Regions from separate parts of the Homo sapiens genome. Here all the other regions are linked to region 5. The links come from fine-mapping of genetic effects on gene expression. A gene starts in region 5. Each other region holds a variant in brackets. All regions are shown on one strand. Distances are from middle to middle.

Region 1 (4,357 bases), 140 kb before region 5:
GACACGGTTTCACCATGTTGGCCAGGCTGGTCTCGAACTCCTGACCTTAGGTGATCTGACAGCCTCGTCCTCTCAAAGTACTGGGATTACAGGCATGAGCCACTGCGCCCGGCCTCTCACTACGTTTAAGTGATGCCATGGCTCATGCCTGTAATCCTAGCACTTTGGGAGGCCAAGGCAGGTGGATCACCTGAGGTCAGGAGTTCGACACGAGCCTGGCCAACATGAGGAAACCCCGTCTCTAGTAAAAATACAAAAATTAGTCAGGCGTGGTGGTACAAGCCTGTAGGCCCAGCTACTTGGAAGGCTGAGGCAGGAGAATCACTTTAACCGGGAGGCAGAGGTTGCAGTGAGCCAATATCATTCCACTGCACTCCAGCTTGGGTGACAGAGTGAGACACCGTCTCAAAAAAAAAAGAAAAAAAGAAAGAAAAAAATGTGATGCCGGGGCATCTCAGCCTCAATACCTGCATGAGCACAGTCATGTCCAGGCCAGGGCTGCTGGTCGAGGTCTGGCCCCATCTCTTCTAGAAGAAAGGGAGTAAGCTTGCAGGGAGGCTGGGGGACAAGATCCCAGGATCTCAGCCTCCGCTCATGGATCAGCTCTGAGACCCTGACTGAGCTGGGGGTGCTCTGTGTGCACTGGTTTCCCCAGCTGTCAAGTAAAGGGATTGGATGAGGAAGTCTTGTCAAGGTGGAATGATCTCAGATTTGGGGCAGCAGTGAATGATCCCGCTCCCTGGGCCCATGCCAGTGGCCTGGCCTCGGCTGAACACAGCCCCAACACTCTGGAATGGGGATGAGGGGGAAGTCAGCTCTTGCTCTTAGTAAGAGAGATGCAATAGGGCTCTGTGGCTGAGCTGGGTGCCTTGCCTCACACCTGTAATCCCAACCTTTGAGAGGCTGAGGCGGGAGGATTGCTTGAGGCTGGGAATTTTGAGAATAGCCTGGACAACATAGCCAGACCCCATGTCTACAAAATAATAAGAAAACACACAGCTATAGTCCAAGCTACTTGGCAGGCTGAGGCAGGAAGGTCCCTTGTGTCCGGGAATTGGAGGCTGCATTGAGCTATAATCGCACCACTGCACTCCAGCTTGGGTGACAAAGTGAGACCCTGTCTCTAAAAGAAAAAAATATCGGCCTGTGAGCATGGGTTTGATCTTCAAACAGGACCCGGAGGGTAGGGACAGACAGTGCTGTCACCCTTAGGTGCTGAACACTCAGAAACGGGCCAGCGGCAGTCCTTTCCTCACCTGCAGACACCAGATTGGGCAGAACAGCACGTGGCACTTGCAGCTCTTGCAGTGAGGGCAGAACCCAGTGTCAACCCTTCTGCCTGTGGGAGGGGCTGCTGAGGCCTGCGGAGAGGCCAGGGTGGAGGCTCGTCCCCTTGTCCAGCCCTTGGCGTGGTCTCCACCAGGTCCCCAGTCCACCAGTGCAGGGCTCCCCTGAGCCTGCTGCTGCCACGGGCCCTGTCTCTACCCAGGACGTCCCCCCACCCTCGCAGTGTCAGGGAAATGATCATGGTGGCGGTGACACTCCGCAGGCAGGGCTGCTGAGAGAAGCTGAGAAGGGTCACACTGCAGGCAGGCGCCCGTGTGACAAGCCCCTCTCACCCCGAGAGAGCTGACCAGGCAGCTCACGAGCAGAGCCACATCCCGGGAGTCCGAGAAAGGTCCTGGCTGGGCTCAGCCACCTCACTGGCCACGGGCAGCCTTTGTCGTGTGAGCCTTGCTCTCCTGGGGAGGCTCAGGCTGACAGCTGTGGGCATTGCCGAGGGTAACCTGTGGCCCAGTGTATATGGCCGGCTCTCCTCAAGCTGCATTCATTCAAGTAGGACCCAGGGTGCATGCCCATCTCCAGCCCAGGGCAGCTCCCCTGTAAGCTGGGTGAGCTACTGAAGCCAAGGCGGGAGGCAGCTGACAACACCCACGGCCCATGCGGAGGTGGTGGAAAGGCTGGACTCAGCAGCAACACCAAATCCCGGACCAGGCAGAAACCACCCAAGACTGAGGGGCTCGTGCCAGAGCGGTGGCCACAGGTAAGAACCCGGGCCCAGGGTGGCAGGAATCCTCCATGTCCCAGGGCTTAGCATAGCAAAGGAAGACCAGCCGGGTCACCCTGGTGGCCATCTGTCCCTGTCCCACCTGCAGAGTCAGAACAGCCTCTCCCCAGTGGGGATCATCTCTCTCTGCCAAAGCAACAGCGGTCCCTGCCCCAACCAGACTACCCCACTCAGTGGGGTTACGGATGCTGCTCCAGCATCCTAACACTGCCCAGCTGGTGCCTGCCTGTGCTCACCCACACCCCCCAGGCCGGCCTTCCCTGCAGCCTGGGCTTGGCCACCTTGGCCTGATTGAGCACTGAGGCCTC[C/T]TGGGCACCCAGCCCTATCACTGCACCTGCTGCTTCCAGCCCCACCCCACCGGCTCAGGGGTTCTTCCCAGCGGCGCTGATCATGAAGTCAACATGCACGCAAGTCGTCTCAGGAAACTTTTTAATGAAAGTGTCGGCCACGGTGGTGTGTAGGTGGCTGAGCTCAGATTGCAGCTGCTAAGACACCAGCCACTTACCAAGAGAAAGCCAGGCTGCTTCAAACCCAGGGCCCAAGGCAAAAAAGCATCACTTCCGGCCGGGGAGTCTGGAAGCCACGCCTTGTGGGAGGTCACACTGGCATCTAGGCCTTCGCCTGCATTGCAGAAGGAGAGCCAGGTCCCCCTCCTGGAGAACGCTGCGTTCCCCAGCCCCACACCGGCTTTGCCACCACACAGGCTGTTGAGGCAGGAGGTGGGTAAGACGTAGCTGTAGACCCAAAGCAACCACCAGCCCTGGGACCCTGCGGGAGAGGAGCACTTTTAGAACATGGAAAAGTGTGGTCATCCCATCATTAGACAGCACACATCCTACATAAATAAAAAGTCGTATGGGGAAGGAGGTTGGGGAGGGAATAAAAAATTGGCACAGACATTGATAGACTGGTTTCCAGTTTCAAGGTAACAGATGCACATCATGAGACCAGAGGAGGCAGAGACAAGGCTGGATTTGGCTTTTCTAAGCAACACGTGTTCCTGCGCAGGGCTGAATGGTCGCTGAGACAGAGATGGAAGCCAGGACAAGGGAGCCCACCGGGCCCAGATAGGTACAGAGAGCAGAGGCTCCTGTTCTGTCCTCGCCACCCACGACGGTGACACTGCTTGTAAATGGTGGCTGTGCTCTCCCAGCAAGAAAAAAGCACAACTAAATCCACACTGCACACAGACGCAGACAGAAAGCCTTCAAGTGGCTGTTTTCTGCTCCCTGCCTTGCCAGGTCCACAAGCAGAGAGGAGTGTCAGGCGCATGGCCCCACTGTCAGGCTCCCTAGTGAGCTGCGGGTTCAGCAGGAGCTGCCCACTGACACACAGGGGACACCCACTCCTCCCACCTTGGGAGCGGGTGCCAGACAGAGCCGCACTGGGTGCTGGTGTCATCCAGGGACCCCACACACTTCCTTAAATGTGATCCTGCTTCCCTCTGGGCAGCTGCATCCTCTCCTCCTGCAGGACCGTGTGGAAACTTGGCTCTCAGTTTGCTCTCCCTTCTCTCCTCTGCCTGCCCCAAGCCCCTCTTTCTAAAAAAGTGATGGAATATTCATGGGGTTATTTCTTGAAAATACTTGGCGGTCTCCATGCTTCTGTTTTCTTTGAGCCAGGTGGTCAGGAGGGTTTACAAAGAATGCCTGGGCTCCCCCGCAGGTGTCGGCAGATGGGGTAGCGAATGGTCCTGTGCCTCCACCTGCTCCGGGAGGGAGTCTCCCGTCTCTAGGCCTGGCCCCTTCCTAACCCTCCACGTATCCTGTTCTCCAGAGACTTCAGAACCCACTCCTGAGAACAGCGGAGCCAGGCGCTTAGAGGAAGACCAAATGCTGCCAGGACACGGATTGTCCAGGGATTACATTCCAGCATCTTATTAGGTATCTGGATCTGTTCGGAAAAAAATTAGAAACTATGTATAAAACTTACAAATATTCAAGTATCAAAAGGTTATTTAGGATGAAAGTTTTAAAACAAGTCATCAGCAAGCTGCTGCCACCAAGTGGAGACTTATACAAAAGTTGAGCGAGTCCACTGAGCTGAGAGGACAGAAATGAAGTCACCTGTGCTGGGGCAGGGGCAGGGACACTGGGGGCAGGGAGTGTGTGGGCAGAGAAGCCAGAGAAGTCCAGGCCTGTGGAAGCCAAACAGGAGAGCGTGGGCCGGAAGGGCGGTCAGGATCGGGGGACGAGGTCGCTCTCCCTGGAGAACGAACCCTAAAGTGCGTAGCCTGGGGTTCCCTCCCTGGGGGTCCTGTCCCCTGACATTTCACAGGCCTTCTGAGCT
Region 2 (4,000 bases), 26 kb before region 5:
GGTGTCACAGGCACACACGGGGTGTAGGGCACTGAGCAGGGCCTATGGCAGTCGCACACTCCATGCTCACTCCATCCTCCATGCAGAAGTCTTCTCTGGCCTCTGGGGGTCAACACCAGACCACCCCACATCATCACTAGCTGGTCTCTCACCCCAACACCATATGCCAGCTATCCCAAGTGTCTGAGAAACCTGTGGCAGGCCAGGCTGTTAGGCTCTTTCATTCCTTTGTGACAGTCCCTGCTTAGAAGGCCTCTCCTCCTCCCCTACAATGGCCTAACATACTCCTTTTGTTTGTTTTGTTTTTCAGAGACAGGGTCTGTCTCTGTCGCCCAGGCTAGAGTGCAGTGGTGCAATCACAGCTCAATGTAGCCTCAAACTCCTGGGCTCAAGCGATCCTCCCAACTCAGCCTCCAGAGTAGCTGGAACTACAGGTGTGCACCAAAACACCTGGCTAATTTTTAATTTTTTGTAAAGACAGCGTCTTGCTATGTTGCTTAGGCTGGTTTTGAACTCCTGGGCTCAAGCGACCCTCCCAACTCAGCCTCCCAAAGTACTGGGATTACAATATACTCCTTTTGAGTCCATTCAAGATCCAACTAATGGGCCATCCTCTCCTTAATGTCTTCCTTCTGCTAACCCAGCAGAGTCAGTCACTTCTCAGTGCCTGGTTGGTACTCACTTCCATCCCAGCACCCCTTTATCAGCTGTTTTTAATATATGTCTATGGGTTCCTTGAGGTCAAGGACAAAGTCAAGGCCTAAGCATTGTGCTTGGACCCCAGTAGGTGTCACATCAACTTCAAATGAACAGATGAATGGTTGGAGGATGAATGGATGGATGAATAGGTGATGACTGAATGGATGCATGTTTGGATGGATGAGTGAATAATGGATAGTTCAATGTTGAATGGATGGATGGTTGGCTGGATGTTAGACAGATGATGGATGGATGGATGGAGGGAGGGAGGGAGGGAGGGAGGGAGGGAGGAATGAATGGATGACAGAGGGATGAATAGATTTAGTTGGATGGATGATGAATAAAGAATAGTTAAATGGATGGTTGTATGACTGGTTGGATGGATGGGTGGATAGATAAATAGATAAATGTTTGGATCTTGGATTGATGATGAATAGATGGATAGATGGATGGCTTGGATGAATGATGGAATGGCTCAAGCACAGCTACCCCTTTCTCAGGAACATCTGCTGCTAGGAAATAAGAGGAGCAAGTTTGCTCATCTTGGGGCTTGAAAAGGTTTCTGAGTTTTAACACCCTGTTCTCTCAATGTGGAAGGGTTTTTTGGTAACTTTAATCAATGAATGACTATTTTCTTAACTTTTTTTTTTTTTTTTGAGACGGAGTCTCGCTATGTTGCCCAGGCTGGAGTGCAGTGGCACAATCTCGGCTCACTGCAAGCTCCGCCTCCTGGGTTCATGCCATTCTCCTGCCTCAGCCTCCCGAGTAGCTGGGATTACAGGTGCCCGCCACCACGCCCGGCTACTTTTTTTTTGTATTTTTAGTAGAGACATGGTTTCACCGTGTAAGCCAGGATGGTCCCGATCTCCTGACCTCGTGATCCGCCCACCTTGGCCTCCCAAAGTGCTGGGATTACAGGCGTGAGCCACCGCCCCCAGCCTATTTTCTTAGCTTTTTATCCTGGAAAATTTCAAACAAATACAAAAGTAAGAGCACAGCATCATGAATGCCCATTACCCCATCATTTGGCTTCAACGATTATTAGCTCATGGCCAGCCTTGTTTCAGGGAATATTCATTCAGCCCTGGGAAGCAGCAGGAAACAGGGAAGAGAAAGGGAAGTTAGAAACCAAGTGACCATCTCTCATCCAGCTTTTCCTCCTCCGGCAACTTCTCTGAGGAAAGAATCCTCATGGGGTTTGGAAGACTACCCTACCTGCCTCACAGGTTCTATAGGAGAGAAGCTCCTGTGAGCTCCTGAGCACAGATGTGAGACGCCCACACCTGGCTCTGTCATCGATTGCATCACCACCAGGCATTTGGAGGCAGCTCGCTGTGAAACACAGGTTGGCAAACTGCAGCCCACAGGCCAAATCCAGCCCACTGCCACCTGTTTTCATGTGACCTAGGCCTTAAGAATGCTCTTTATAGTTTCACATGCTCACATTCCAAATGGTTATGTAAGTATCCACAAAGTAGCATCGATTTTGCCTCTCAGCCACAAACATAAAATTAGTTACTATCTGGTCATTTAAGGAAAGTTCAGCCAATCCCAATACTGTAGAGTAAAGTAAAAAAAAAAAAAAAAAAATT[A/C]TTGGTTCAAATCTTGGCTCTGCTGCCTGAGCTTCTGATCCTGCCTAGGCTTTGGCTGTCTGAGTATCCCCTTGGCGAGCAGCAACCACCAGCTCCTTGCAGAAATAGAGCAAGGCTCGGATCCTGGACGCTGAATGGGATCCCCTTACAAAGCACAAAGCCAAACCCAAGTGCAAAGTTCCAGTAAAGGGAGGGATCCTGTCTCTCCTGCAAGCCTTCCAGAGAGGGAACACCGGCAGATCCGTGAGAGGAGGAGAAGGAGGGTCTTCAGGAGTCAAAGTGCACCTTGAGACAGGCCCACCAAATGCAATATTCTGAAGGAAAGCGTGGCTTCCACTGAGGCATCTGTACCCCCACAGGAGTGACAACGTTCAGTGCCGGTATCCTTCCTGTCCTTATGCCCTCCAGACTGACCAGCCCATCTCCAGCACCGGCCAGCTCAGTACCAAGACAGCCCCTACTCCAACTGGCACTAAGAATGCTCAGGAAAGACTAACAGGCTTTCCCTGCAGGAAGGATACCTTGCCTTCTGATCCCAGGTGGGGCCTGCAAAAGGCTGGGAGGCTGTTGGGGAATTGGTCATCTGTAACAAAGGTAAATTATGGCCTCAAAGTACCTAATGTGCTCCTCCCACTATAGCACAGAAATAGGGGTGGCCACACACGCATGCCTGCTCATCTCAGTGCTGGCCTCAGCACATGCATTCCTGACCAAGCGGGGCTGTGCTCTGGCTGGCAAGACACCAGCTGGCACTACCAGGCCTCCTGCTGCCAACCACCTGCTTGCACATCATCACCTCCGCCCTGGCAGACACCCCCATGCTGCCGTCTCCCCCATCCACGCGGACGGCAGGGCCTCCCGCTGCCCACGCTCTGCACTTTGGCACGTTGCCCCAGATGAAACCTGCACGGCCTCTGAAATCTGTTCCAGTCCTGGTGGTGACCTGTAGACTGGCCAGTGGGCAGTAAGGGAGGACAACAAATCAGCCAGCAAAGCAGTGTCCTGGTTCCCATTAAGGGTGCACACAGAGGCCAATCCACCCCAATCCACATTACTGCAGGAAGCCAGACACAACCAGGATCCTACAGGAAGGCTGCTTTGGGACATCCACCAAGAGGGATTTCCAAATAATTTGCTGGGAACTCAGAGCAACATGACTTAATTTTATTTAGAATCACAAAACTAACGGATCTTAAAATAATTTTCTGGGAACTCAGAGCAACATGACTTAATTTTATTTAGAATCACAAAACTAACGGATCTTAAAAATGCTGCCATTCAGCTTCATCATTTACGGACAGGAATTCAGAGGCCCAAGGAGTCTACGTGATTCACTGGAGTCAGAGTGGCGGCCAAGGGCACAGCTAAGATGGGCAACGCAGAGCAAGAGGAGGAGCAAGCGTGGGTCCCAGCTCCATAATCCATGAGCTGGGATGGCTAAAACTGAACTGCTGGCTCCTAGTTGTGAGCGCTGGAAAATAAGACGGAACACCCTCCACGGTGCAGGACGACTAGTCAGTGCTGAAGAAGGGGCCATTCCTCTCCTTTCCTCCCCAAGCCCATGACACCATGCTGCCCTCCCTCCAAACGTGGTCTCACCATTATCTGCCCTCCTTCCAGCCAAGACCATCTGAACCCACTGCCTGCACAGGGAGGTGTTTGTCCTCCCGTCCCAGCCCAGCTTCTGCCAGCCAAGTGCAGCCATGCAA
Region 3 (4,000 bases), 31 kb before region 5:
AGTCAGCAACGCTGCCATCCCACAGCCTGGCCAGTGCCTACCCTGGCAGGCAGAGCCTTGGATGTACCCAACCAAGGACAGCCAAGCTCAGGGCCATGATTGTCTGTGGAGAGATGGCTGCAGGGGTCAGCCACATCCTCTCCGGGAAGGCTTTCCTGAGAGCCAGACAAGCAAGGAGACAGTCAGGTGAATGAGCCCAAGCGTCAGAACAAAACTAGACAAGGGAGGTTCTTGTGGTACGTCCCCAGGAGCAGCACTCCGTGAGGAAGCCCGAAAGCCTCCCAAATTAGAGAGAATGCCCATCTGATTGCCAGTCCTTGTCCTTTTTGAGGCCGGCAGCCTCCCAGGAATCAAGTTAAAGCTGCCGTCCCTCACATTGCCAAGTTTTCTGCAGACAAGACACTGATTTATGACCAAGTAATTCATATTCTGGTCTGGGCAATATTCAGAACAGGGTGTGCAGCTTGCAGCTGCCACATCTCTTGCCCAGAGAGCAGGTGCATCTATGTTCCTCTTCAGTGAGAAAACAAACCAACGGACAGAGTCATAAATGCCCTCTCCATCAGAATTGGAGTGAGCAGCCCATGGAAGCTGTGTGTGTTGAGAGACACAGCAACGCTCTGGGGTAGGCACAATCCATAAGCCAAGTCCACATGCTCATTCCAAAAGGCCCCTGTGTCCCCAGAGCAAGCACTGCACTTCTGCTGGAGATGCTGGCGGCCCTGCAACAGAGGAGGCTGCCCCAGGCCCCACAGAGCCCAGTGGGGGCTTACTTCAGGCCTTACTCCACTGCTGGGATTTTCTGCACCTATGCAGCAACAACTCCATCAAGCTTCCCAGAAGCCAGTGTACTCCCTGTTAAGGCCCTGGGGTCCTGAGCAATGGGTGTCTCTATAGACTCCAAATACCACAGCAGTTCCCAGGGGCACCTGTCAGCAGTTTCAGATCCAAGGACTATGGACAGTGAAGGGATCCCACTTTGACCACAGCCCATCCTTCAGGGTCCCCTCCTGTACAAACCCAGTGTGTCTGCCAATCCCAATCGCAGCCAATCCTACCACAGCTCAGATTCCGGGCTGTAGGGGTCCATGTGGCTCGATGGCTTCTCTCCTCTCTCCAGCCCGCTTCCCAGGGTCTGGCCACTCCAGCAGCAAAGATAACAAAGAAGAAACCAGCAACGGAAAGAGGAGAAGCTCATGGGAAAGCAGCAGTCCCCTTGCAGAGGTCAGAGAGTGCAGTTTCCCATCCACCTGCCACTTCAGACCCTTATGGGAGGCTGAGGGTAGGGCTGGCAGGACCCTGGTTATGGGGTAGGGGAGTCCTGCAGACAGTGGGAAGTGGGAACAGGGAGGGGGTTTTGTTCTGGGGCACTCTGAGAGGAGCAGCCCCAAATCTAGAGGGAAGGGTCCAGGCTCAAGAAGGAACTGAGGACAAACTGAGTGAGAACAGCTCCACCAGCCCCTACCCCTGGAGGGTGAGATGTGGCCTGGAAGATAGGACTTCTATTGAGAAGCTCTAAGATAATCCCAGCACTCTGGGAGGCCAAGGCGGGTGGATCACCTGAGGTTAG[G/A]AGTTTACAACCAGCCTGGACAACATGATGAAACCCTGTCTCTATTAAAAATACAAAAAACAAAACAAAACAAAACAAAAAAAACTAGCCAGGCGTGGTGGTGGGCGCCTGTAATCCCAGCTGCTCGGGAGGCTGAGGCAGGAGAATCCTTGAACCCGGCAGGCGGAGGCTGCAGTGAGCCAAGATTGTACCACTGCACTCCAGCCTGGGCAACAGAGTGAGACTGTCTCAAAAAAAAGGGCCGGGCGCAGTGGTCACGTCTGTAATCCCAGCACTTTAGGAGGCCAAGGCAGGCGGATCACGAGGTCAGGAAATCGAGACCATCCTGGCTAACACAGTGAAACCCTGTCTTTACTAAAAATACAAAAAAATTAGCTGGGTGTAGTGGCGGGCGCCTGTAGTCCCAGCTACTTGGGAGGCTGAGGCAGGAGAATGGTGTGAACCCGGGAGGCGGAGCTTGCAGTGAGCCGAGATCGCGCCACTGCACTCCAGCCTGGGCGACAGAGCAAGACTCCGTCTCAACAAAAAACAAACAAATAAAAAAAGAAGCTCTAAGAACTCTGTCACCAAAAGCTATGTACCATGTGATCCCATTTATGAAAAGCCCAGAAAAGACAAATCCACAGAGGCAGAAAGCAGACTGGTGGTTGCCAGGACTAACAGAAGAAGGGGATGGGGAGAGAGTGCTAATAGGTATAGGGTTTCTTTTGGGGGTGATGAAAATGATCTGCAATCAGACAGTGATGATGACTGCACAACTCTGAGATAATACTAACCACCACTGAATGGTCCATTTTAAACGGGTGAACTCTATGGTATGTATGTTACATCTGAATAAAGATGTTAGTGGGATAGAAAGGGGAAGAACAGTACTGACCCATCTGTGGGATGAAATAATCCTCGGTAATAAAAAGGAATGCCCTATTGGTACACACAACTTGCATGAATTTCAAATGCATTATCAAAGTGAAAAAAGCCAGAGCCAAAAGGTTACACACTGTACAATTCTATTTATATGACATTCGGAAAAGTGCTAAACTGTAAGGGGAGAAAGCACATCAGTGGTGTCGTGGGCTGCAAGTAGGAGAAATGCCTACAAGGAACAAGGGGTAATGCAAGTTTCTGGGGTGATAGGCCTGCTGTGTATCTTGATGAAGGTAATGGCTACAGAACGCTGTCACACCTCACAGAACAGTATACCAAGAGTGACTTTCATTGTCTGTAAATTACACCTGAATGCACATACGTGCACATATACAACCATCAAATGACATCATGACATCTTTCAAGCCTTTAATTTTTTTTTTTTTTTTCTTTTTGAGACAGGGTCTTACTCTGTCACCCAGGCTGGAGTACAGTGGCACAATTGTGGCTCACCGCAACCTCGACCTCCCGGGCTCAAGCTATCTTCCCACCTCAGTTTCTCAAGCGGCCAGGACTATAGGTCCATGCCACCATGCCCAGCTAATTTTCAAATTTTTTTGTAGAGATGGGGTCTCACTTTGTTGCCCAGGCTGCTCTCAAATTCCTGGGCTCAAGCAATCCTCCTGCCTCAGCCTCCCGGTAATACAGGTGTGAGCTGCTGTGCCCAGCCTAAGTCTTTAAGATGTTTGAAAAAGAACAGATAATTCACAAGATATGTATTTTTGTTTTACCTTCAACCCATAATTTCTTTTTTCTAGGGTAAAAATTACTATAATTGGAAATTTGTTGAAACAGTAAAGGAAGTTAGTTGAAAAACAAATAGCTGTTAAGTGGGTGAGGGGCAAATAATGTAAAAATCTGATATGTGAAAAATACCATTGAGTAGGGGCGCAGTGGTGCATGTCTGTAATCACAGTTACTCAGGGGGCTAAGGCAGGAGGATGGCCTGAGGCCAGGAGGTTGAGACCAGCCTGGGCAACACAGCAAGACCCCATCTCTAAAAAAATTAAAAAATAGGCTGGGCGCGGATCACAAGGTCAGGAGATCAAGACCATCCTGGCTAACACGGTGAAACCCCGTTTCTACTGAAAATACAAAAAATTAGCCAGGTGTGGTGGCGGGTGCCTGTAGTCCCAGCTACTTGGGAGGCTGAGGCAGAATGGTGTGAACCCGGGAGGCAGGGGAGGTTGCAGTGAGCCGAGATCGCGCCACTGCACTCCAGCCTGGGCAACAGAGCGAGACTCCATCTCAAAAAAATAAAATAAAAATGAATAAATAAATTAGCAAACAAGCCACGAAATTTGTACACCCATGTTCCTGCCAACATTATTCACAACAGCCAAAAGGTGGAGGCAACCCAAGTGTCTACTGGCAGAGAGATGGATAAACAAAATGTGTGTCTACCAATGGAATATTATTCAGCTTTAAAAAGAAAAGAGATTCTTTTTTTTTGAGACAGAGTCTCACTCTGTAGCCCAAGCTGGAGTGCAGTGGCGTGATCTCGGC
Region 4 (4,000 bases), 130 kb before region 5:
AGACTGCTGTGAGCCATGATCATGCCATTGCACTCCAGCCTGCGCAACAAAGCGAGAGACCCTGGCTCTACTAACCAACCAAGTAACTGGAAACACAGAAACATGTTAAGCAGGAGACATTCTTACCTTTCCTTCAAAGAACAGCCATCACTGGGCCCCTCTCCCCTTGAAAACCCAGAACAGGCAGAAGCAGCTAACAAGCAACCCAGAGTCCAGGTAAGAAGAGACAGAAAGAGAAGCTGTCCAGACATCAGCGGCTGCCCCTCAAAGCCCCCCTGGAACCACGGCCCACAGGTGCTTTTCAGCAGAGGCCGCCCGGCTCCGGCCCGCCCGGCTGGGGTGGAAGTACCAAAGGAGGCCCTGCATCATGGCCAGGGTGGATGGTGACTCTTGCATGCTTGGCCTTGCTGCTCTGGGAAGCTGGTGGGGCTAAACGAGAGCTTCCAGCCTCCAAGGCCTTTTGACCAGGCTTTGAGGGAAACCCCACCCCGCAGTCTGGCTGGCCAAGGTCAAAGCTTCCCATCACCTCCGGGTTCCACTTTTTTGTGTGTGTGTGGGAAGAACACCCTCCCACCCCAGCCTATTGGTTACGGGAATTTCCAACGTGTCTCCATCTCCTCTAAAGCCCAGAAAAGCTGAGCTTCCTTCTCAAGTGGCTAGTTTCCTGTTGCCCAAGTTTGGAGACTGAGTAAAGTATGACTGGTCAGCCTGCCTTGTGCTGGAAGCAATCCAGACTGTCCAAAATCTGCACCACTCCCAGCAGGTAACCCCAATAATCAAATGCAGTGCCTCTGATGGACCCAGGGTGGAGGACACCCTGCTCAGGTCCTGCTCCCCCAGAGCTAGCTGGCTGAGCAATGTGCAGCCCTGGGTGGGGCTCCAGCCAGCGTCCACTCCCCAGCATTGGTGGTGTCCAGCGCCCACTCCAACCTGGTACTGATGCTGCCAGGAGGGCTCTTTATCGGGCCCCTCTCTGTGACTCCCAGTGACTGAAGACCAGGGTGTTGGCCTCCAGGCACTGGCTCTCACGGCGGTCCTGACTGGCAGCTCCAGTGGGAAAGGCTGTCCCAAGGCTGGCTCTGTTCCAAAGAACAGAGTGTGCGCCGCAGAGCGGAAGCCGTATAAAGAATAGCATGATAATGAGGCCTGTGCCTCAGCTCAGCCAATCCCAAACATTGCTCAAGGCTGGTACGCTCTCTCGTGCAGTTATTTAAAGCACCAGAGAAGTAAACAAGCAAAAGACTGGGGTTTGGAAAAACAGATGACCAAGGGGGAAACAGTTTTCCCTTAAGGGAAAAACCGAGGCACTCCGGATGCTGTCCAGGGTCCCCCTGGGTTGCAAGGTCTTGGTGAGGAACATGCCTGCTGCCTGGCCGGGGACTGGGCAGGCAGGGGTCTGTCTGCTCACATGCAGTGGTCTCAGGAGGATGGACCAGGTTGCTGCTCCTCTCCCCCTGGACTGGGTAAGGCAGGAGCCTTGAAAGAATGACTATGGTCAGCGGGCCTGGCAGATGGTGGCCT[A/G]GAGGTCTGCCTAGAAAACTATCGTGCACATCCATCCCAGGGAAGTGGTGGGGTGGGGGCTGAGGGAGGCCGAAGCCCAACTGGGGCAGGTGCTGTGTGCTGCCCTGAAGCATCACTGACCACTTTGCATGGTGGCTCTGCTGGGGGCCCAGCACTGCCCTGCTTGCTTTGTAGTCAGTGTGGCTGGATTGAGTCACCAATGGGCAGCCGGAGGACATCCTCTCACCCACCCTCAGCAGGGGCAGGGAGGGGGCTATGAGTAAACCTTCCAAAGGAGGAAATGCTTGTTCACTTAGCTCCTTGTAGACAACAGCTTCCTTCACGCCCATCGTCACCAGCCTGGATGGTCCAGCAGGGCAACCCCAGTTGTTCCTGTCTGGGCCCCATGTGTCTGCACTATAACCTACTCCCGGGGGTGGGTCTTTGCTGAGACCACCAGAGAACCTCTGTGTTCACCAGGAGAGAGATTACAGGCCTCCTGCTGTAGTCTATGACCACAATCTGCTCTCCTGAGATCCATCCTGCACCTTTTTTTTTTTTTTTTTAAGGCGGAGTCTCACTCTGTTGCCCAGGCTGGAGTGCAGTGGCGAGATCTCGGCTGACTGCAACCTCTGCCTCCTGGCTTCAAACCATTCTCTTGCCTCAGCCCCTGAGGAGCTGGGATTACAGGCACCTGCCACCATGCCCGGTTAATTTTTGTATTTTTAGTAGAGACGAGGTTTCACCATGTTGGTCAGGCTGGTCTTGAACTCCTGACCTAAAGCAATCCACCCAACTTGGCCTCCTAAAGTGCTGGGATTACAGGCGTAAGCCACCGCGCCTGGCCTCTATCCCACTTTTAACTCTTTGCTTCTCTTCTCTGATCCCAACCAGTCTCTAACATCACTTCAAAAGGAACACACCCTTCTCCCTTAGGATACACTATAACCAGCATCGGTGAGGATGTAGAGAAATGGGCTTTCATACATGGCCACTGGGGATGTAAGATGGTGCAGCTACTCCAGACAACGTAGGGCAGTTCCCCAAATAGTCACCTTGTTGCACAGCCCAGCAATCTTACTAGGTGTTTACTCAGTGAATGAAAACATACGTCCATATAGAGACTGGTACCAAGGACATGTTCGTGGCTGCATCAACCTTAACAGCCCAAACTAGAAATGATCCAAGTGTCTGTCAAATAGTAAATGCAGAAATAAAAACATGTTATATGTATGCAATGGAAAATTATTATCATAAAAAGGAACCAAACAATGCTACCACATGAATAAACCTCAAAAACATAATGGTAAGTGGAGGAAATCAGTCAAAAAAGCCCACTCTAGTATGATTCCACGTTTATGAAATGTGAAGAATGGGCAAATCTCTAAAGACAAAAAGCAGATCGGCTTGGGTCTGGGAGTGGCTATAACTGGGAACAGGGGCTGGGCACGGTGGTTCACACCTGTAATCTCAGCACTTTGGGAGGCCAAGGCAGGAGGATCACTTGAGCCTAGGAATTTGAGACCAGCTTGGGCAGCAAAACAAGACCTTGTCTCAAAAAAAAAAAAAAAAAAAAAAAATAGCCTGGCATGGTGGCGCATGCCTGTGGTCCCAGCTACTTGAGAGGCTAAGGTAGGAAGAGCACTTGAGCCTGGGACATCAAGGTTGTGCTGAGTGTGGTTGCACCACTGTACTCCAACCTGGGCAACAGAGCAAGACCCTGTCTTAAAAAAAAAAAAAAAAAAAAAGGCAACAAGGAAATTGGGGTGATAGAAATATTCTAAAACTGGATTGTTGGTAAAAGTTGTACAGCTCTGTAAATTTACTATAAAATCATTCGGTTATAAAAATGGATGCATTTCATGGTACAAAAGTTAAAAATAAAGGGTCCAAAAGTGGCTCTCAATAGAGCAAGGAGGACCTGTATCACTATCCATGTTGATGGCGGTGTGCTTCAAGAAGAATCCCGTGGAATCTGTGTAAGAATTTGCTCATGTGATCTTACATTTTCATGATGTTTACATCTTCATATCTTCCCCAAATATTGGTTCAAAACAAACATCACTCATTTTGTGTTCCTGCTGCAAGAGACCCCCTGGGGCCTGCCCCTCTCCAAGTCTGTTTAAGAGGCTACATACATAAGTTTCTCTCCTATTGGTGCCTCTGCCACATGGACCATGCATGTCTCATTCATCTCGGAATGCCCCCCAGGCACATCAGAGACCCCCCTGAATGGGTGAATGGCTGTGTGGACAAGACCTACGTGGCCCTCAGATAATCCTTGAAATACAAATGAGGATTCTTGGTGCCTTCATGACGGTATCCGCCTTACCTGACCATACCTCCTCCGACTCCCATCACGTCCCCTGTGACGTGATCTTTATTTTGGCTTATGTTTGTCTCTGCTGCTGGAAAGTAAACGTGGAGGACAGGGCTTTGTCCAGTTCATTCTCTGTGGTATCTCCAGTACCCAGACAGAGACATAAAACATACCTCTATA
Region 5 (4,308 bases):
CGCTTATGGCACTGCGGCGTGGGGGGACTGCTGCTGTCGAAGGACTGTTGCGAGTTCTGCGAGGGAGAGCGGCTTTTGTCCCGGAACATGCGGTAGGTGGTGGGGCTTGGGGACACGCGGCTGGACTGGCCAGAGGAGAAGTCCTCCTCGCTGGAGGTGAGGTTCTCATTGGAGCTGCAGTCCGGGGTATAGCCGCCTCCGCAATCCTCAAAACTCCGGGGGGAGTAGGACCTGCGGGGCCAGGTAAGGCGCTTCTCCTGCTCAGAGGTGCTCTGGCTGCGCAGGAGCGGGCCCTTGCCCTCCCCTTCCATCATGCCCCCGACGTAGATGCTCTGGTAGGGCTGGTACTCCAGGGGCGGCCAAGGGGGCCTGCTACCGCCATTGGCGTCGATCAGGTTGTCCTTCAGGAAGCGGGGGTTCAACTCGGCGTCCTCGTAGTCGCCGTCGACGCCGCAGCTGCTCTCCGAGGAGCGTCCCCGGTAAGGGGGCCTGGATGCATCCCCCACGCTCGAGCCCGCGCCGTGCTGGGACTTTTTGCGCTCCATCTGCATGGCCTGGCTGCCCAGGGAGCTGATGCGGTCCGACACCTCTTTGTCGTTGACCTTCACCAGGCCGCGCTCGTGGTGAAACTCGACGTTCACGTAGAAGGGCTTCTCGGCGTCCGCCCCGGGCTGGCCATGGCCCTTGCGGATCCGCTCGAAGTTGGACCTGAGCGCCGCCACGCTGGCGGGGGGTCCCCGGTCGTCCCGTTCCCCCGACGCGGCTGCCCCGGGCCTGCGGGCGGTCCCGGGCCTGGCCTTACCCGGAGAACCCTCGCCGTCGGGCCGGGCCTCGGGCTCCTCGGCGGGCGGCGGGTCGGCTCCGTCGGCGGGCGCTGGCTGCGGGCGCGACGCGGACGCTCGGGGCTCGGAGGCGCCGTCGGGGGCCTGCGCCGCGCGCCGGAAGCCCCATCGCTGCCGGTCATAGCTCTTCTTTTCCTTGGCCAGCAACGTCTGCAGGTAGATCATGCGGAAGCGCTCCTGGTTCACCTCCTGCTCCAGGCGCCGAATGGAGGCCTTGCAGCGCTCCAGCTCCTGCTCGATGTCGCCCACTGAGCGCAGCTCCATGCGCGGGGGCTCTGAGTCCGGGAACTGCGCCTTCCACGCCTCCGCGAAGCCCACCGGGTCCACCATGGCGCGGCCGGCCTTACCTGCGCCGCCGGGCTGCGCGCGGGGCCCGTCTCAGCGGCGGCGCGGCGCCTCGCCAGCCCGGCCCCGGGCGCCGGGCGGCCCCCATGGCCCGCGCGGCGGCGGCGGCGGCGAACAATGCCCGCCCACTCCCTGGTGGCAGGTGAGGCGGAGCGGGGCGCTCGGCGCGCGGGGCGGGGCGCGCCGGGGGGAAGGGCGCGGGCTGCGCGCGCCGCTATTGTGTGCGGGGCTCCTCCGCACGGCGAGGCGCGGGCGCTGCTCTCCGCTCCGCCAGGCCGCCGCCAGACTCTGGCCACGGCCCGCGCGCTCCTCGCCTCTCGCTTCCGCACCGCCCCACAGCCCCGCCGCCGCCGTGCCGCCGCCGCCGCCGCCGCCTCCTCGGACGCTAAGCTCAGCCAGCCGGCTCTCGCCGCACTCCCGCCCGGCCCGCACTCTGCGCCGCAGGAAGGGGAGGGCCGGGGGGAGGTGGCCGCGGCGCGGATGACGGAGCCAGGCGGGCCTCTTAAAGGGGCCGCGCCGTGGGCACAGGGCGGGGGGGCCCCCTGGAGGCGGCTCCCCCATCGAGCCGCCACCCTCCCCCCGTCCCTGTGCCTTTTGGGAAACTGAGGCCCTAACAACAGCGAATTGGACTGTGCAACTCGCAGCCCAGGGGTCCCCCGTAAAAAAGACACCGGACTCCCTGGTCCATAAAGACCTTTCCAATACAGAGGTCTGGGCCAGTTCTGCAGTCCTGGAACAGGAACACTTGGCTCCCCTCCGGCCAGGAGGACTTCTCCGGCCAGTCCAGCCGCGTGTCCCCAAGCCCCACCACCTACCTCATGTTCCGGGACAAGAGCTGCTCTCTCTGGCAGAACTCGCAGCAGTCCTCCGACAGAAGCAACCTCCCCCCTCTGCCCCTACCACGCCGCAGTGCCATAAGCGTCACCGGCACTGCCCAGTCGTCGTGTCAGAGGCCACCATCGTGGGCATCTGCAAGACCAGGCAGATCTGGCCCAACGATGCGGAGGGCACCTTCCATGGAGACGCAGGTAAGTTCCTCACACCTCACAGCCTGGCCTCTCACCAGCCTCAGGGCTGGGCACACTAGGGACCACCCAGCAGGGCCCAACTCACAGAGAGGCCAGGACCAGGCAGGTCACCCCGCAAGGCAGGGAGGGCCAGGCTGAGTAACCAATGCCAGCACCCTTGTTTCAGCGGGCCTCTCACGTTGTGGATCTGCTGTGGGTGGCTGCCACACGGGTTTGTCACAGCAGGACCACATGATGGATGATAAATAGGGATTTCTCCCTCAGGTCACTCAATACCCACACCTGCCTTCCTGTGTGCTGAGCCATGTGTTTGTCCCCTGGCCTCTCTTGAGCTCCAGAGGTCAATGTAGTTTTTCCAGGACGACCTGACTCAGAACTTCCCTGATTAGCCTCCCTCTAAGGGGGCGGCCAACCTGCACTGAGGTTCACAGGGCTGGGTGGAAGACAGCCCAGAGCAGGGAGTGAAACAAAACCTTTGATGGTTCTCTGGGGACACAGAGATCTGAGACACAGTGGAGAGCACTCTGCAGGGACTCTGATGGGCACAAACTGAAAATACCCAAACCAGCCCGCTGGGTTGGGGGAAAAGGAAACAGGATTTGGCAAATGAATTACTGGGCTTGAGTCCTGACCACCTCTCCCTCTCTGCCTCAGTTTCCTTGAAGTGAGAAGCACATCTGCCTCCAAGTGCTGTTGTCCCTGTGTGGATGTTAGGGATTATCATGCCCTCCTCCCAATGCCAGCGTCATCTGGAGCAGATACTTTGAAGTCCAATCTAAAGGACTGAGCCCAGGCTAGTAGCCAGGCCAGCCCTGCTTGGGTTCAGGGCTTCCTGCCGACTCCTGGCTGTGTGACCTCAGCAGTGTCTCTCTCAGCCTCTCTGAGCCTCAGTTTTGTCATCTGTTCTTCATGTGCCCAATCCTGCTTCCTTTTCCCCTGACCCGGCAGGCTGGTTTGGGTATTTTAATTTTGTGCTCATCAGACTCCCTGCTCTTTGCCCTGTCTCAGATTTCCAGGCTTCCCTAGAGAACCATCAAAGATTTTGTTTCACTCCCTGCTCTGAGCTGTCCTGTCTTCCACCCAGTCCTGTGGGCCACGGTACAAAATGTTGAGAGCATCCTGCATAAAATGCCCAGATGGGGCAAACATAAAACACAACCTGATAAATGGTGTGTAGGGGTCGATTTCGTGATTGCCTGTTAATATTAGTGCCCCTGGAGAACATTCCTGCCCTGGAAAACCCATGGGCCCCAGTTTCTAGGCTGGGTGGGCGGTGCGCAGCTCACTGCTGCCCTCTGCAGGCCTTGCTAACCTCCTGCCATCCTGGTCCCTTGGACCCAGCGGACCTTCTCATCCCCTTCCCATCAGGCTGCAAATAGCCCATTTTGCATGTGAGGAAACTGAGATGCAAATGATGCCCTGGCCACTAAAGGGGCTGGAATCCCAGTAGTGCCATACTGAGCAGTGCTCTCATCCTCAGTGGCCTATTTTTTTTTTTTTTTGAGACGGAGTCTCACACTGTTGCCCAGGCTGGAGTGCAGTGGAGTGATCTCTGCTCACCGCAACCTCTGCCTCCTGGGTTCAAGTGATTCTGCTGCCTCAGCCTCCCAAGTAGCTGGAATTACAGGCGCCTGCCATCACGCCCAGCTAGTTTTTTGTATTTTTAGTAGAGACGGGGTTTCACTGTGTTGGCCAGGCTGGTCTTGAACTCCTGACCTCGTGATCTGCCCGCCTTGGCCTCCTGTAGTGCTGGAATTACAGGTGTGAGCCACTGCACCCAGCCCTCAATGGCCTCTTCTTTAAAATGGGTATGATAAAGGCAGGCACAGTGGCCCATGCCTGTAATCCTGGTGTTTTGGGAGGCCGAGGCAGGAGTATCGCTTGAGCCCAGGAGTTCAAGACCAGCCTGGGCAACATAGTGAGACTCCATCTCTACAAAAAAATTTAAAAATTAGCCTGGCATGGTGCCTCGTGCCTGTAGTTCTACCTGCTCAGGAGGCTGGGGTGGGAGGATTGCACTGAGCCTGGGAATTTGAGGCTTCAGTGAGCTAGGATCACGCCACTGCACTCCAGCCTGGGTAACAGAGCAAGAC
Region 6 (4,357 bases), 31 kb after region 5:
CCCTTGTACCTATTTGTTAAAAGAAGGAATGACTATTTCACAATCCCTCTGCCAGTGGTGGCAGGAGCTGCCGCGGCAGGAAGAGGACAGACACAGCCCTCGCCCTCTTGGGCTAGGTCTAGTGAGGAATCCAGCCTGCAATTCTGTGAGATAAGTTCTTGGGGGCACAAGAGCACCCAGGAGGGGTACCCTCCCCAGTCCAGGGGCAAGGGTAGTGGGGGGTCAGAGAAGGCTCCCAGAGGACTTGACACGCTGAGACCTGAAGGGGAAGGGGAAGGGGAAGCGAGGGGATTAGGAAAGACATTCCAGACAGAGGAAATGAACTTGTACCAAGACCTGAGGCTGAAAAATCACCTGCGTGACTTAGAAGAGGGAAAGTTGTTCCATATGGCAGGTGTGTTAACTGAAGCCAGATGAAAACCCCAGTCATCTGGCTGGGCACGGTGGCTCACACCTGTAATCCCAGCACTTTGGGAGGCCGAGGCAGGCTGATCACGAGGTCAGGAGATCGAGACCATCCTGGCTAACATGGTGAAACCCCGTCTCTACTAAAAATACAAAAAATTAGCCGGGCGTGGTGGCGGGCGCCTGTAGTCCCCGCTACTCGGGAGGCTGAGGCAGGAGAATGGCATGAACCCGGGAGGCAGAGCTTGCAGTGAGCTGAGATCGCACCACTGCACTCCAGCCTGGGCGACAGAGCGAGACTCTGTCTCAAAAAAAAAAAAAAAGAAAAAAAAAAGAAAACCCCAGTCATCTTCAGGCCTGTACAGGGCTGCACCAGCCTCGTGTGTGTGTTTCATTTGTTCATTCTTTCACGTGCTTCATGCACTCATTCCTTCTTGCCACCTGCTCCCCCATCCCACACCCTGCAGGCTCACCCGACAGTCCCCGTGTTCCTGCGTTGGCAGGCAGCGCTGACCTGCCCGTGGAAGTGCTCCCTGAGCTGCAAACAGGCTTCCGGCGTGTACCACTGCAAAGAGACAGACAGACGGACACATCATCCTGCAAAGCTGTGGCTCCGCCCTCGTAGCCAAGCAGTGAGGGGAGATGATCTTCCCAGCCTTCCTTCCTAGGCCTCACAGCTGGCAGCCTCATTAGCTTTCCCTGACCCATTTGTCATGTGTATCTTCTATTTCCTCAGCCTTGAGGCTCTGGGGCCTTGTGAGTCCAGAGGGGCGAGCCCAGGCAGGGACTTGGAGATCTGTGTCTCACCTGGGGCCGCAGTTCCCTTGCTGCATGCATGTGACAGGCCTGTCTGCTCTGGGTCTCAACCCTCTCAGGGCGAGACGAGTGGAGCTCTTTTGGTGCCAAGATCCTCCAAGATCCAATTAGCCAGGTGCAGTAGTACATGCCTGTGGTCCTAGATACTGAGGAGGCTGAGGTGGAAGGATTGCTTCAGCTCAAGAGACAGAGGCTGCAGTGAGCTATGATCATGCCACTGCACTCCAACTTGGGTGACAGAGTGAGACCCTGTCTCTAATCCATACCTTCTATGAATCTCTGATGACATTTTGTTTTAAAAACATGCATACATGTGCCTGGAAAATGTCCTAGGAGGCGCTTTCTGCTGTCCACGTTTCTTGGAAGGCAGACCTGAGCAGTGGTTTAAGAGCATGGGCCTCAGGGTCAGAAAAAACTGCACGTACCCCACCCACCCTCACCTGGTCTGTAATTAGAAAAAAATGAGATTAAACAAACTAAAGATGACCATTATTTTTTGCCATTGGATTGGCCCAGGCTAAATACAGAATGTGGCAAGGATGTGGGGAGAAGGACACCATTGAGGCTGTTGGTGTGATCTGTGTATGGCAAGGGTCCCGCCCCCCGCCCCCCACCCCTGCACAGCCACAGCCACCTGCTCTGTCCCTCTGAACACTGCTTGGATCCACAGCTCCCCTCCCTCAGCCGCAGTGTCTCAACCATGGATTCGGGCTCTGCCTGGCCCATCTGCCCTCTCAGTTCCAGCTGTGATTGAGGCAGCAGGGATGGTGAAAGGAGACTGGCAAAGGGCAAGTTACAGAAACTTATCGAGCTCCAGTTTCCTTAAATATTAAACAGGGATGCTCATAATAGCACCTTTTCATGTGGTCGTTGGAGGAGTAACTGAATAATGCAGGTGAGCAGCTTAGCCTGATAGTCTACTTTCCTGCAGAAGAGCAGCAGCTACCATGAACAAGCTGGCTGCTTCTTTCTGTCAGCTTCCATGACAGCTTTAAGCTAGGGACTGGCTCAGACACAATGGTCATTACAGGATGGCTGGAAGACTGTGATAATGAAGGCTGCAGGGTAAGAAGTGTGAGCTGATTTCAGAGACAGGGAAACTGAGGCACATGGCATAAAGGGAAGGACTTGCCTGGCAAGCAGTCTGAAGACCCTGCTCAACCTGACTGAATTTCTCAGGGCCCTGGGGTGCAG[G/A]ATGAACTTGACCAGCAGTGGCCTTGATCCCTGACTATTATGGGCAGGAGGGGAGAATGCCACCTGTGAAACCAGGATGGATTCCCTAAGCTGCTTCCCTGGGGTAGGGTGCTCTGGAGCCAGACACGGCCAGGTCAAATCCCAGAGGTACCAGGAGCAGCTGTGTGATGTCAGGCAACCCTCCTTAACTCTGATCCTCGCCGTCTGCTCTGCCAATGAGGTTCTTCATCTCATGATACCTGGACTGTTTTGTGCCAATCACACTTTCCTTCCTTTTGACTCAAGAAAGACCAGTCTCTGTCATCCCTAGTTACCACTGTCAAGCTCTGCAGAGAGAATAATTGCCTGAGCCTCTGTTGAGATGGAAAACCCATGGGGAACTGTCCACAGGTCTGAGACACAAAGCCTTTCTCTGTAGGTGTGTGAAGAAGGAACTTAGGGAGGAAGGTAAAGAAGGGGGAAGGAGGAAGAGCCACATACTCCAAATACCCAGGACCTGTCTAGAGTCACCTCCTCCTCACCAGCCTGGCCACAGAATCCAAGATGCAAAAAAGGCCATTCCATGGAGAGGATCTATCCCTCTGCACCTGTCCGAAGCCACAGAGGCAACCACTGAGAGTAGGGGCTTATATATCCTGCCAGAAATATTTTCTGCATATATAAACAAATAGACATTTCTCCCTCTCCTTGTTTTCACACACCGGAGTGTGCTGCACACACTCTACTGCACTCTGTTCCATGCCCTGCATTTTTACTTAACGGTTTACTTTGGCTCTCGTTGCATGTCAGCTCCTGAAGAGGTTGCCTCATTCTTCCTCATGTCTGTGCCAGGAAGCATTACTTGTTTAACCAGTCCCCTCTCCGAGGATGTTTACGTTGTATCTTATCTTCTATTCTTACAAACTGCTCCAACCCCTATCCTTATGCACATTGTAAACCCATGCCAGAATATCTGCCAAGTAAATTCCTAGAAATAGAATAGCAAGGCCAGTTGTGGTGGTCCACACCTATAATCCCAGTGCTTTGAGAGGCCCGGGTGGGAGGATTGCTTGAGGCCAGGGGTTCAAGACCAGCCTGGGCAACATAGCAAGACTTCATCTCTATTAAAAAAAATTAAAAATTAGCCAGGCATGGTAGCACATGCCTGTGGTCCTAGCTACTCCGGGAGGCTGAGGCAGAAGGATTGCTTCAGCCCAGGAGTTAGAGGAGTGAATTATGATGGCACCATTGCACTCCAGCCTGGGTGACAGAGCAAGATCCTGTCTCTAAAAAAAAAAGAAAAAAGAAACAGAATGGCTGGATCTTAGAGGGCAGGGTCATCTTCTATATTGGTAAATATTGTCCACTGCCCCCTATGGAGGTTGTACTCAATTTGTATTCCCTGCTGCAATTAATATTGGATTTTAATACAGACACAAGAGAGCTGTGAGTTTTCAAGCTCATAGAGGCGGAATGGCAAGAGGAGAGAGCCCTGGATTTGGGGTCATGGAACTGGAATGCTGTTTTGATAACAACAACGATGATGAGAACAACAGCAACTATGACTGCAGGGGAGCTCCTGCATACCATGAGCCAGGCACCCAATATGAGAGGAATTACCTTCATGTAACAGTGGCTCTGAGAGGTTGAGTAATTTGCCCACAGCCACACAGCTTAATGACAGAATCAGAATGAAGGATTCACATCAAGGACTGTCTGGCTGCAAAATCCCAGCCCTTATAACCTCCAGGCCACACTGCTGCCCAGTGTCACCATTAACTTGCGGTCCCACCTTGGGCAGTCAGTGACCAGTCTCCCAGCTCCTCAAGGTAAATCTGACAATGGACAGACCTCCTTGATTCACCTGCTTTACTTCTAGGCATGAGTGTAGAGTGGGGAGAGCTGATGTGGCTGCAGGGCCAGGAGAGCACTGCAGACGTAATGACTCTCTACCTTAGGGAAG
Region 7 (4,000 bases), 120 kb before region 5:
CTGACAGAAGAGCACAGGTCACGTGCATAAATACTTCAGTAGCATTGCAGAAAAGAGTTTCAAAAGATGGCCTGACATGATAACACAGGAAGAGGCCTATCAGCTCTTTTCTCTCTTTCACTGAGACCCCCAGTTACTTAGCAATAGTACTCAGAGGTCCTGGTTCAAATCCAGCCACTCCCAGGATTCCAGTGATTGAAGATTTGGATGAATTGAGTCAATGGTTGGCAGAATCTGAACCTCCCTTTACCTGGTTTGATGAGCTGAAAAAAGGAGCCAGGCACCCAGGCTGTGAGTATCCCTGGGCTGAGCAGTGACACTGTGCCAGATGCAGGCTGGACTGTGGGGGAGGAATGCCCTAGGCTGGGTGGGGGAGACAGAAAACATGGAGAGGGAGAGAGAAGTGGGAGCGATGGGAGCACGACTGGCTTTGCAGTCTGCTCCCTCTACCTCCCTGAATACCCAGGGCCCTGATTCTGAGCAGGTTAGAGAAGCATCTCCTGAGTGTCAAATGAGCTCTCTCAAAGATCTGCTGCAAGGACCGAATGGGAAAGCACATGTGGCCAGGCACAGTGGCTCAGGCCTGTAATCCCATCACTTTGGGAGGCTGAGGCAGGAGAATCGCTTGAACCCGGGAGGTTGCAGAGAGCCAAGATCACACCACTGCACTCCGGCCTGGGCAACAAGAGCAAAACTCTGTCTCGAAAAAAAAAAAAAAAACAAAAAACAAAAAACAACTTAGCCAGGCATGGTGGGGCACGACTGTAATCCCAACAACTTGGGAGGCTAGGGCACAAAGATTGCTTCAGCCAGGAGTTTGAGGTTGCAGTGAGCTATGATCCTGCCATTGCACGCCAGCCTGGGAGACACAGCCAGATACTGCCTCAAGAAAACAAAGAACAACAACAACAACCAAAGCAAGCACGTGTAAAAAAGAACCTGAGCCGTGACCATCACCCAAACTATGACCGTCATTTGACTGATGCTAAAATACTTCGGATCTCAAAGGAGACCAGCACTAAGTACTCCATCAAGAGTGGTGTGGCCCATCTGTGTGGTACAATCTCCCACCATGAGAATCCACACAAAGGCTGGCAGAGTGAACAAGACAGTGCAGTGGGACAGCGACAGGAGAGCTGAGAGCAATTTTTAGTTAATTTATTTTGTTTTAGACAGGGGTCTATGTTGCCCAGGCTGGTCTTGAATAGCTGGGCTCAAGCAATCCTCTCGCTTCAGCGTCCTGAGTAGCTGGAATACAGGCATGTGCCAGAGGAGTCTTTTTGCTTTTAAACCTGATCTCAAAGTATAGGGAGCCCCAGGAGGCTCTGAGCCACTGAGTTCCCTTATAAGCTTCCAAGGCAGAAAAACAGGCAGTAGCTGCACCTCCGAAGATGTGGCCAGCCAGGCCAGGGTGGCAGAAGGGGGTGAGGCCAGCACTTGGTAAAGATTTGCTGATCTGAATGAGAATGTGGGATCCATCAGCAAAGATGACAGGTGACTCAGGGAAGAGCCACCCTCTCCCTTCATTCTTCCTGGCACTTGGTATTTTTTTTTTTTTTTTTTTTTTTGAGACGGACTCTCGCTCTGTCACCCAGGCTAGAGATCAGCGGTGTGATCTTGACTCATTGCAAGCTCCGCCTCCCAGGTTCATGCCATTCTCCTGCCTCGGCCTCCCGAGTAGCTGGGACTACAGGCACCCGCCACCACGCCTGGCTAATTTTTTGTATTTTTAGTAGAGACGGGGTTTCACGGTGTTAGCCAGGATGGTCTCGATCTCCTGACCTCGTGATCCGCCCACCTCGGCCTCCCAAAGTGCTGGGATTACAGGCGTGAGCACCACGCCCAGCCTGGCACTTGGTATTTAACCACAAGAGGATTTTTACTTCCTGCTTAGGGAGGGAGACTGGGCTTCCTGAGGAGCCCTGTGCTTCTAGGGGCATGTGGAAAGCCAAACCCACTCCCTCTAGAGGCCTCTTGTGAAGATGGAAGGTCCTGGGAAGAGAGAGCTGTACCCACAACCCACTGATATAATGCACTATAAGGAAAGCACGATCAGGGCTTCCTCTCAGCTACCCCCGCGCAATTGTGAGGGTGGGAACAGGA[T/C]AAACAGGGCCTGGGGCGCCAGCTATGATCCTCCAGGAAACCCTGGTGGCGTGCTCCCAGGGGCTAGACAAGCTTCTGAAGGACAGAGGGCCCAGGCAGTCTCCTTAAGAACCAGGGCCCCCTTGCTGGTCCTGTATGGACACATTCTCGGTCTCACCTGGGGGCTTCCAGATTAGCCTGGGAGGAGACCTGTCTGTGTGCACCCTGTTCAGAGATACAGCTCTATACCCTAGAAATTGGGTCTAGACCACAGATAGGGGATGCCAAGCAGGCAGCCTCTGGGACCCCTGTGCTTGCAGGCAGCCTCTGGGACCCCTGTGCTTTTCTAAGAAGACTGGCACAGGATGGGCCAATTTCAGCCTAGGACACCATCTAACTGTTCCACCTTGGGTTCTCCTAAGGCCGGGCAGGAACTGAGGCCCCAGCTGCAAAACCAAGTTGAATGGAAATTCCTTTGGGAATGAGCCGACGCAACAGACACGCAGACAGAGGGTGGTACGTCAAGACCCATCAAGATACATGCAGGCACCGGCTCAGGTCTCCCACGATGGATGTTTCAGAGCCACAGCTGCCCACCCCACCCCACCCTGGGTGCAAGGCCATGACCATCTCAGTGTCCCCAGGGGCTGCATGAAAAAGGACGCCATGCATCGGGCAGGGGAGGGTAGGGATGGCTGCCTCACCTGGACCTGGCCCTTCCCCATGAGTCTGTCCGTGCTCTCGCCGTCCTCCTTGGGGATCTTCGTCTTGTTGTAACACTTTTCATAGCACAGTATCCTCAGGGTCTGGGAGCCCTCCAGCTCTATCTCAAATTCCTGCAGCCCCAAGGGAGAAGGGAAGTCCAGTGTGAACAAACGGGTCAATGTTATGGCTGAAGGGTCCTCTGAACCGGGGCTCTCCCTGCTGCCCTTGCTGGCCCAGAGGGACCAATGCCTGAGACCCTCCTCCCTTAGTCCTGGGACACATGGAAGTATTCCTTGTAAGCACCCCTGGCATGAGACCGTGGCCCAGCCCGGATGCTTCCAGAAGCTCCGACTGCCTTTCAAACTTAATCCAAACTCCTTACACCAGCATCTCAAAGGGTGATCCCCACACCACCTGCCTCACAATCGCCAGGGTACTTGTTAAGATATTTCTATGGGCTGGGCACGGTGGCTCACACCTGTAATCCCAGTACTTTGGGAGGCCAAGGTGGGCAGATCACTTGAGACCAGGAGTACGAGACTAACTAGCCAACATGGCGAAACCCCATCCTACTAAAAATACGAAAAATAGTATGGCGTGGTGGTGCATGCCTGTGATCCCAGCTACTTGTAAGGCTGAGGCACGAGAATTGCTTGAATCCGGGAGGCGGAGGCTGCAGTAAGCCAAGATCATGCCACTGCATTCCAGGCTGGCCAACAGTGTGAGACTCTCCCTCAAAAAAAGATATTTCTATGGACTCTGAAAGATAATGATCTGTCGATGCAGGTTCACTTTTATGGCGGTGAGACTATTCTGTAAGATATTATTATGGTGGATACACGTCATTCCACGTTTGTCAGAACACATAACATGTGTAACACCAAGAATGAACCCTACCTAACATCAACTATGAACTCTGGGTGGTAATGATGGGTTAATGCAGGCTCATCAACTGTAACTCATGTCCCACCCTGGAGTGGGATGTCCATAATTGAGATGGGGGGCAGGAGGTACATGGGAACTCTGTTCTTTCTGCTCCATTTTGCTGCAAACCTAAAACCGCTCTTTAAAAAATGAATTATATCTAAAAGGAAACAAAAGAGTGATCCTTGGGGTTGATACAGGAGGGAGAGGGACTTGGAGGAAAAACTGCTCCCCGAGCTCTCCAGTTGTCTGCCGTGGGTGCGTGGTGTTAACTCTCTCCTCCATCACC

What was found. PIP is the estimated chance that this variant, and not a neighbour inherited with it, causes the effect.
Region 1: its variant is fine-mapped to the expression of BCR in lung (TOPMed, PIP above 0.99). The same link has a PIP of 0.9 or more in anterior cingulate cortex, blood mononuclear cells, pancreas, spleen, sun-exposed skin and thyroid.
Region 2: its variant is fine-mapped to the expression of BCR in ileum (GTEx, PIP 0.97).
Region 3: its variant is fine-mapped to the expression of BCR in whole blood (TOPMed, PIP above 0.99). The same link has a PIP of 0.9 or more in T cells.
Region 4: its variant is fine-mapped to the expression of BCR in whole blood (TOPMed, PIP above 0.99).
Region 6: its variant is fine-mapped to the expression of BCR in whole blood (INTERVAL, PIP above 0.99).
Region 7: its variant is fine-mapped to the expression of BCR in sigmoid colon (GTEx, PIP 0.95).

The regions. Positions count from the first base shown.
Region 1 is chr22:23,316,161-23,320,517 of GRCh38, reverse strand. It overlaps BCR (BCR activator of RhoGEF and GTPase), which reads right to left. Exons shown (of 23, transcript NM_004327.4): 23 at 2,481-4,357. It also overlaps the pseudogene POM121L11P. Among named protein-coding and RNA genes, the nearest start is that of LINC02556, 8.3 kb to the left of the region's middle. The variant C/T (reference allele first, on the strand shown) is at 2,377.
Region 2 is chr22:23,203,932-23,207,931 of GRCh38, reverse strand. All of the region lies in intron 1 of BCR (BCR activator of RhoGEF and GTPase), which reads right to left. Among named protein-coding and RNA genes, the nearest start is that of BCR, 25 kb to the right of the region's middle. The variant A/C (reference allele first, on the strand shown) is at 2,292.
Region 3 is chr22:23,209,306-23,213,305 of GRCh38, reverse strand. All of the region lies in intron 1 of BCR (BCR activator of RhoGEF and GTPase), which reads right to left. Among named protein-coding and RNA genes, the nearest start is that of BCR, 31 kb to the right of the region's middle. The variant G/A (reference allele first, on the strand shown) is at 1,571.
Region 4 is chr22:23,303,180-23,307,179 of GRCh38, reverse strand. The region is part of intron 16 of BCR (BCR activator of RhoGEF and GTPase); the gene reads right to left. Among named protein-coding and RNA genes, the nearest start is that of LINC02556, 21 kb to the left of the region's middle. The variant A/G (reference allele first, on the strand shown) is at 1,522.
Region 5 is chr22:23,177,825-23,182,132 of GRCh38, reverse strand. BCR (BCR activator of RhoGEF and GTPase) reads right to left here and starts at 1,624. Exons shown (of 23, transcript NM_004327.4): 1 at 1-1,624. The coding sequence starts at 1,172. It also overlaps a transcript of RSPH14 not described here and the pseudogene BCRP8. RefSeq lists silencers at 1,094-1,173, 1,194-1,463, 1,534-1,773 and an enhancer at 1,894-2,704.
Region 6 is chr22:23,146,676-23,151,032 of GRCh38, reverse strand. RAB36 (RAB36, member RAS oncogene family) reads right to left here. Exons shown (of 11, transcript NM_004914.5): 2 at 4,348-4,357; 3 at 879-970. It also overlaps a transcript of RSPH14 not described here. Among named protein-coding and RNA genes, the nearest start is that of RAB36, 3.4 kb to the right of the region's middle. RefSeq lists enhancers at 559-1,059, 1,060-1,560. The variant G/A (reference allele first, on the strand shown) is at 2,416.
Region 7 is chr22:23,293,942-23,297,941 of GRCh38, reverse strand. BCR (BCR activator of RhoGEF and GTPase) reads right to left here. Exons shown (of 23, transcript NM_004327.4): 16 at 2,787-2,918. Among named protein-coding and RNA genes, the nearest start is that of LINC02556, 31 kb to the left of the region's middle. The variant T/C (reference allele first, on the strand shown) is at 2,104.